Linked DNA regions of Homo sapiens. The protein of the gene in region 1 interacts with the protein of each later gene in a pairwise test. Each region holds a gene or a part of one and is shown on either strand. Other genes may lie near its edges.

The links. Proteins that work in one complex are often made in the same cells at the same time.
Region 2: the proteins of NRF1 (region 1) and PANX2 interact in a two-hybrid assay, tested with the Homo sapiens proteins (one large-scale study listed by BioGRID).

Annotation. Positions count from the first base shown.
Region 1 is NC_000007.14:129,656,020-129,660,718, reverse strand, and holds part of NRF1 (nuclear respiratory factor 1), read right to left. Parts: intron 3,377-4,699; exon of another isoform or gene 3,374-3,376; 5' UTR 3,368-3,373; coding exon 3,145-3,367; intron 1-3,144. UniProt on the Homo sapiens protein: Transcription factor that activates the expression of the EIF2S1 (EIF2-alpha) gene. Links the transcriptional modulation of key metabolic genes to cellular growth and development.
Region 2 is NC_000022.11:50,169,361-50,173,530, reverse strand, and holds the start of PANX2 (pannexin-2), read right to left. Parts: upstream 2,801-4,170; coding exon 2,575-2,800; intron 272-2,574; exon of another isoform or gene 1-271. UniProt on the Homo sapiens protein: Ion channel with a slight anion preference. Also able to release ATP. Plays a role in regulating neurogenesis and apoptosis in keratinocytes.

The DNA of each region.
Region 1 (4,699 bases):
GGGAGGGAGGCTGTACCCTGCAAAGCCACAGGGGGCAGAGCTGTCCAAGACCATGGGACCCCACCTCTTGTATCAGCATGACCTGGATGTGAGACATGGAATCAAAGGAGATCATTTTGGAGCTTTAAGATTTGACGGCCCTGCTGGATTTCGGACTTGCATGGGGCCTGTAGCCCTTTTATTTGGCCAATTTCTCCCACTTGGAATGCCTGTATTTACCCAATCCCTGTACCCCCACTGTATCTAGGAAGTAACTAACTTGCTTTTGATTTTACAGGCTCATAGGCAGAGGGACTTGCCTTGTCTCAGATGAGAATTTGGACTGTGGACTTTTAAGTTAATGCTGAAATGAGTTAAGACTTTGGGGGACTGTTAGAAAGGCATGATTGGTTTTGAAATGTGAGGACATGAAATTTGGGAGGGGCCAGGGGTGGAATAATATGGTTTGGCTCTATGTCCCCACTCAAATCTCATCTTGAATTGTACTCTCATAATTCCCACATGTTGTGGGAAGGACCCGGTGGGAGGTAATTGAATCATGGGGGCAGATCTTTCCCATGCTGTTCTTGTGATAGTGAATAAGTCTCACAAGATCTGATGGTTTTAAAAGGAGGAGTTTCCCTGCACAAGCTCTCTCTCTTTTTGCCTGCTGTCATCCATGTAAGATGCGACCTGCTCTTCCTTGCCTTCCACCATGATTGTGAGGCCTCCCTAGCCAGGTGGAACTGTAAGTCCATTAAAACCTCTTTCTTCCCAGTCTTGGGTATCTCTTATCAGCAGCATGAAAATGGACTAATACAACAGCTAAAGAAGAAAATCTTCTGTCTTTCACAAGCTGAAAGACAGAAGAAACTACACAGAAAGATGATACATACAGAACAGATGGTTAAGAGACATACAAGTGAGGAAGACTAACATAAGTAACTGGAGCCATGGAATGAAAAGAGATGGAATGCAGCAGAAGCAAAATCTCATGGCTAAAATTTCCGGGAGAGGGGGGCAGGCCATGTGGGAGATAATCTTTGAAAGAGTAGCGGTTAGAATGAAATAGCTGAATTCTCAATAGCAGCAATGGAATCCAGAAGACAGTGGAACAGTACCTTCAACATGAGGAAAGAATAACCACCAAGCTAGAATTCCATACTCAGTGAAAACATCCTTCAAGGTTGAAGTTTAAGTAAAAACATTCACAGACAAGCAAAAATAGAACTTGTTACTAGCAGATCCATGTTAAAGCAAATATTAAATGGTGTCTTTAGGCAGAAGTAAAACCATCTCAGGAGACCAGTTGGAGATGCAGGAAAAAAAATTAACATTATTTTTTAAATAAAAATATTGTTCGCTGGATGCGGTGGCTCACGCCTATAATCCCAGCACTCTGGGAGGCCGAGATGGGTGGATCACCCGAGGTCAGGAATTCAAGACCGGCCTGGCCAACAGGGTGAAACCCCATCTCTACTAAAAACACAAAAATTAGCTGGGCATGGTGACGCACACCTGTAATCCCAGCTACTCGGGAGGCTGAGACAGGAGAGTTGCTCCAACCCAGGAGGCAGAAGCTGCAGTGAGCCAAGATTGTGCCACTGCACTCCAGCCTGGGCGACAGAGTGAGACTCCATCTCAAAAAAAAAAAAAAAAAAAAAAAGTCCTGTGGTGTTTAAAATACAGTTGTCCCTTCAAATCCTCTTGAGATTGTTTCTAGCATCTTGATGTGTAGATGCTCAAGTCCCTGATATAAAATGGTGTAGTAGTTTCACATGACCTATTCACGTCCTTCTGTATCATTTCTAGGTTACTAATACTAATATTATAATACCTAATACAGTGTAAATGCTATACAAATAGTTGTTGTATTGGCCTTTTATTTGTATTATTTTTAATTGTTATATTGTTACTTTTAATTTTTTCCTAATACTTTTGATCAAAATTGGTTGAATGTGCAGATGTGGAGCCCACAGATAAAGAGAGCCAACTGTATACCAAAAATGAATACAAAGGACAACAATAGCATATAGGATGGGCGCATGAAATGCAAGTGTTCTAAGAAATTTGTATTATCCCTGTAGAGGTTAAAAGTTCCAAGTACATACAACGTTTTGCTTTTCCTTTTTTTTTTTTTTTTCAACTGGACACAGGCTCTCACTCTGTCACTCACGCTGTAGTGCAGTGGTGTAATCATAGCTCACTGCACCCTCAAACACCTGGGCTCAAGTGATCAGTCATCCCACCACAGCCTCCCAAGTAGCTGGGACTAGGGAGCACGTCACCACACCCAGCTAATTTTTTTTTGGTAGAGATGGGATTGCACTACATTGCCCAGGCTGGTCTCAAACTCCTGGGCTCAAGTGATCCTCCCACCTTGGCCTCCCAAAGTGCTGGGATTACAGGTGTGAGCCACTGAGCCTAGTCAACATAAGGCATTGATAAATAAAGGATGTATGTTACAATTTCTACAGGTATTGATAATAGTAAAAGCTTATAACTTTCAAACTAACAAGAAAAAAATGAAAAAATACAAAATTTTCAATCACTACAAAAGAAAACGCCAAGAAAGAGAAAAGTAAACAGAACAGGTAGGGCAAAGAGAAAGCATATAGAAAAGAAGGTAAATTTAAATCTAAATACATGTCAGTGATTCTGTTTAACGTAATTGGAATAAATGCTTCAGTTTAAAGCCAAAACATAGGCAGAATAGATGAAAAAATAAAACCAAAGCCATAACACTGATAGTAAGTGATTACAGACCTCAAGTCTCAGTATAATACAGGCTCAAGTTATAACTGCAAGGCTTAAAAAAGTTGTGATAAAGGCCAGGCATAGTAACTCACACCCGTAATGCCAATAATTTAGGAGGCCGAGGCAGAAGGATCGCTTGAGCCCAGGACTTTGAGGCCAACCTGGGTAACACAGTGACATTTCTGTCTCTACAAAATATACAAAAATTAGCCAGATGTGGTGGTACACATCAGCAGTCCCAGCTACTCCAGAGGCTGAGATGGGAGAATCACTTGAACCCGGAAGATCAAGGCTGCAGTGAATCATGATTGTGCTGCTGCACCCCAGCCTGAGCAACAGAGTGAGACGCTGTCTCCAAAAAAAAAAAAAAAAAAATTAAAGAAGAGCTTCTAATCCAAACAACACTACCTGCAGCTGCCAGATGAGCTGTCACCTCATCAGCTGCTGTGGAGTTGAGTATATCTGAGTCATCGTAAGAGGTGTCCTCGGGAGAAGAAGGCGAGTCTTCATCAGCACTCAGCATACTATGCTCGGTGTAAGTAGCCACATGGACCTGCTGCACTTGCTGGGCCACTGCATGTGCTTCTATGGTAGCCATATGTTCGGTTTGGGTCACTCCGTGTTCCTCCATGAAGTTCTACTGTCAGACAAAAAAGAAAAAGAACAGGATTCAGTGTGTAATATAACACAATGTTTAAACTAAGAGATATTTTATTCAAGAGCAGAGGAACCTTGACAAAATTCCAATTTCACTACTTACCGTGCCACACCAAGTCACAGGAAATGGGAAGCACCATGCAAATGTGACATAAAAATGACAGAGTGGTGTTCTTACGTGAAACCATTTTGATGGAAATTCGCTGTACTAATTTTATACCTCAGATCACAAAACAACAGATACCCTTAATAATAAAAAGACATTCAAATATAACAATAAAAACATACTTAAGATAGCTCAGTGACTAGCATTTGGCCTTGTGAACATAAGAACACTTAGTAAATAAGTGAAATACTTAACATTTTCTTTGTATGTCAAAGACGAGTGAGAGTCAAATAACTTTTTTCCCAAAAATTCAAATTGGTCTTTCTGCTTATAAAACTGCTTCTTGAGGGCATGGCGGCAAGTGCCTGTAGTCCCAGCACTTTGGGAGGCCCAGGCAGGTGGATCATCTGAGGTCAGGAGTTCGAGACCAGCCTGGCCAACATGGCAAAACCCTGTCTCTATTAAAAATACAAAAAAATTAGCCAGGCGTGGTGGTGGGCGCCTGTAATCCCAGCTACTTGGGAGGCTGAGGCAGGAGAAGTGCTTGAACTCGGGAGGCAGAGGTTGCAGTGAGCCAAGGTTGTGCCATTGTACTCCAGCCTGGGAGACAGAGCAAGACTCTGTCTCAAAAACAAACAAACACCCCCTCCAAAAAAAAACCCAAAAAACTGTGCTTCTTGTAAACCCCAAAATGATACAGTAATGTATAAAGCAGTAAGGTTAAAAGTTGGCTCTTCTATTACACTTATAATCTCCACTCCCCCCCACCCCAGAAGTTCATTATTTTTGAAAAATAAATTTGGAGCATACATATATATAGATTTAAAATAAAAACAGGTTCATATTATACATATTGTCTGTCTTTTTCATATTACAATATATCTGGACATTGTTACATGTCAAAACATAACAGATCTACCATATCTTTTTTAAACAGCTGCATAATACTTTATTATATGCATGTGTCATAATTTATATAACCAGTCACTTGCTGATCAAATATGCTGCCAAGTTTTTGCTATTATAAACTAAACATCAATGCAGTATAAAATATGTCCTTGTATATAAAACTTTACATATTAGTTCCTCAAAAAAAAAACAAAAATAGAAGTACCACATGATCCAGCTATTCTTGAATAGACATCTGTACACCCATGTTCATAGCAGCTTTATTCGCAACAGCCAAAATGTGGAAGCAAC
Region 2 (4,170 bases), on another chromosome or scaffold:
CAACCTTCGAGGGTACTGCATCCTGAGACAGCAGCTGGCCACACGGGCCCTCAGGCCCAACCCTGCCCTGCGGCATCAGGGGCTGCGCTCGGCCCTCCAAGGATGATGAAGCCAAAAAGAGGAACCAGCCCATAGGCTCCTGGGAGGGTGCTCGGGGGCAGAGCGCTCGCTTCCTTTCCGCTTTAAAGAAGAAAGTTGGGCCGGGTGCGGTGGCTCATGCCTGTAATCCCAGCAATTTGGGAGGCCGAGGCGGGCGGATCACCTGAGATCAGGAGATCGAGACCAGCCTGGCCAACATGGCAAAACCCCGTCTCTACTAAAAATACAAAAAATGGGTCAGGCACGGTGGCTCAACGCCTGTAATCCCAGCACTTTGGGAGGCCAAGGTGGGCGGATCACGAGGTCAGGAGATCGAGACCATCCTGGCCAACATGGCAAAACCCCGTCTCTACTAAAAATACAAAAAATTAGCCGGGCATGGTGGCGGGCGCCTGTAGTCCCAGCTACTTGGGAGGCTGAGGCAGGAGAATGGTGTGAACCCAGGAGGCGAAGCTTGCAGTGAGCAGAGATCGCGCCACTATACTCCAGCCTGGGTGACAGAGCGAGACTCTGTCTCAAAAAAAAAAAAAAAAAAATGAGCCAGGCGTGGTGGCGGGTGCCTGTAGTCCCAGCTACTTGGGAAGCTGAAGCAGGAGAATCGCTTGAACCCGGGAGGCAAAGGTCGCAGTGAGCCGACATCGCACCACTGCACTCCAGCCTGGGTGACAGAGCGAGACTTTGTCTCAAAAAATAAAAATAAAAAAAGCGGGGGGGTGGTGAAGAAGAGAAAAGGGCACAGTGGCTCACGCCTGTAGTCCCAGCACTTTGGGAAGCTGAGATGGGAGGATCACTTGAGCCCAGGAGTTTGAGACCAGCCTGGGGAACATGGCACAAAAATTAGCTGGGTGTGGTGTGGGATGCCTGTGGTCCCTGCTACTGGGGGCTCGGGGCTGAGGCAGGAAGAACACCTGAGCCCGAGAGGTGGAGGTTGCAGATCGCACCACCGCACTCCAGCCTGGGCGACATACCAAGACTCTGTCTCAAAAAAAAAGGAAATTTGGACACAGACAGGGAGGGAAGAAGCCCATGAGAAGACAGAGGCAGAGACTGGTGGCACGGCCACGAGCCAAGGCGCCCAAGGATTGCCGGCAGCACCAGAGGCTGAAGAGGCTGGAATGTCCCTTTCCTAGAGCTGTGGGAGGGAGCAGGGCCCTGCCGACACCTCGATTTTGGACTTTTGGCCTCCGGAACCATGAGAGATAAATGTCTGCTGTTTGAAACTGCCTAGTTTGCGGTACTTGGTTGCTACAAACACAGAGAACACACGTGGTGTCTGGACATGCTGGGCCTGCCCCAAGGCCCCACCGCACGCCTGGGCTCCCTGCTCTGCAGAGTGTGCTGTGTGCCCACCCCAGGGGTCCTCTAATCCCCGGGGTCTGGCCTCCAGTGTCGAAGAGGAGACCAGCAGAGGCCTCCTCCACCCCTGGGTGGGATCAGACAGCCTGGCCAATGTCCACCCTCAGGCCTGGTGTCTCCAGGCCACGGGGACTCCTTAAGGCAAGGCATCTGGGAGATTTGGGAAGCGCCAGTGCTGAGGCAGGGTCTGCTGAGGTTTGGAGGCTGCAGAAGAGAGGGCCCCAGGGTCCCAACACCCCTCCCCGCTGCAGACTAGTACCTCTGGGCCACACAGGCCAGGAGACCCTGATCCCCCTTGCCTTGGCCCAGACCCCAGGGGAGGAAGTTCTCGGCTCCACCTGTCTCGCCCCACTCCTTGGGGAGGGCAGAGGCACCAGGACCCCACCCCGCAGAGGCTCACAGGCAGGCTGGCTGCTCTGTCCATCTTCCTGCCTCGCCTGGGTGGCTTCAAGTGCCCCCACAGGTCCTGATCTAACCAGCGCGGGTCCCTGCCCTGGTCCAGCCCCCATCTCCCTGCAGGAGCTCCAGGCTCCCTGCTCTGACACGTGGCCCTGCCCCATGCTAGCCCCCCTGCTTCAAACCTTCGGAGGCCCCCAGTGCACCCGGAGAGGCCTCGCCCTGCCTGAGGGGTGGAGGGCCTGGGCCTCTCAGAGACTCTCTCTGCCCTCCTTCCACCCAAGTCCAGCCTGGGAACCCTGCCCGGCAGCTCCACCAGCCCCTGTAATCAGCTCTCTGCTGTCAACACCCATCCCGGCCTTTCCTGGTCCCCACCTGGCCACCCTGCATCCCCTCAGGCGCTGCTTGTGACATTCTCCAAACCAGACCCCGTGTCTCATGACATTTGGGACCCCTGGGTCCAGACAGGCCTAGTCCCACCCGCGGCCATGGGCGGACGAATGGAAGGAAGAACAACAATAAAATAGAGACGAGGGGTCTGTGCGACCAGCGACACCTGCTAGGATGGGGGCGGCTGTGGAAGGTGCCTGGGACGCCGCGGACGCAGCCAGGCCACGGTGGGCGCGGCTGGACGGAGCCGCCGGGGACGCGGGAAGCGCCAGCTCCCGGACACCTGCGGACGCCCCCTCTGCCCGCGCCCCGCGCCCCGGCCGCCGGCCTCACCTGCGAAGTTCTTGGTGAAGACCAGGGTGACCAGCAGGATGGGCACCAGCACGGTGCCGATGGTGACCACCCGGTCGAACGGCAGCTCCAGCTTCAGCTGCAGAAGCAGCGCGGCCAGCGCGCCCGCCTTGTCGTCCTGCGCGCCCGGCAGGATCAGCTCCCGCAGCTTCTCTCCCGCCAGCAGCGCGGTCGCCATGTCCGCCGACTGCTCCAGGAGGTGGTGCATGGGGGGCGGGGGGCGCGGCCCGGCGGGGGGCGCGGGCGGGGCGGGGGGCGCGGGGCGGGGCCCGGCGAGGGGGGCGCGGGCGGGAGGGGACGCGCGGCGCGGGGGCGGGGATCGGGGAGCGTGGGGGCGCGGGACGGGGACGGGGCCGCGGGCCGCGGGAGAGGGTGGCAGGGGACGCCGGGACCGAGCGGGGGGCTCCGGGGGATGGGAGTAGCCGGAGGCGCGCGGCGGGTGCGGGGCTGGCCGGGCGCGGAGCCCGCAGCGGGGTTTGGGGGGCGCTCCGCCGCCGCCCCCGGGGTCAGGGGGCGGGCGGGCCGGGCCGGGGCGGCGGCGGGGGGCACCGGAGCCGCCCGCCTCCGCCGCAGCCCGGCCCCCGCCCTGGCGCGTGCCTCCGGCGGGGGCGGCGGCGGGATCCCGGCCCGGAGCGCGGGCGGCGGCTGCTGTCCCTGCCTGGGGCCGGCGGCCCCGCTCCCGCCGCGGGGAGGGGGCTGTTTACCTGCGGCGACTCCGCGGCGTGGCTCCGCCCCACCCCGCCCCCCGCCACGCAGATGCGGCGCGGGCGATGACTTTGCAGAAAATATTGAAATGAAATGAAAGGACATGAATGAGTAATGACCGGTCCCTCTTCCTGGGAACGCGGGGTGGCTGGCGGGGGGCTGCCCCGGCCCGCGGGAGGGTGGGCAGGGGTGGGGGCGGCCCTGCGGGGCTCCGGGCTGGGGCGGGGGCGCCGCTCGGTGGCGACGTGAGGACTGGGCGCGCGCTGGGGCTGCCCCCGTCGCATCGCAGGGCCCTTCGCCCAGCCCAGGGCGCAGAGGGGGCTTCCTCGCCTGGGCCCCCCACCTGCCCCGGCCGCGCCCCGCTGTGGGTCCGGAGGTTCCCGCGCTCCTGGGGTGCTGCGGCCACTGGCGGGGAAGCCGGCGCTCTCTTCTCTGGGCTCGGGCGCCAGTGCGCGGGCAATGAGGGCATCTCCCCGCCCCACACCCTCCACTGCAGCCCCGGCCCCACCCGACCCCCCCACCCAGTACCCCCAGTCCCGCCGCCGTGAGTGACCCCATCACCCCCGCTCCTGCAGCCCGCACCTCCTTCCCCCACGCCCCATCCCGTCCCCTGTTCCACAGACGTTCCCGGGGCCTGTGCCAGCTCAGGGGGTCCCCGCCGCCTCCCTGACCTTCATTCCCTCCGCTCCCCACAGCCCCGCCCTCCGTCCTGTTCTCCCTCGGGGAGCCGGGGGTCTGGCTTCAGACGCGGGCGCATCCCGCGTGGTCCCTGCCTCTTCGAGGCAGCCGTTTTCCCTCGTGCAGGTCCCCTTCCCACTATACCAGGACGAACGTGCACGATCTTTCATATAAAAGATTTAGTGTGATTGGAGT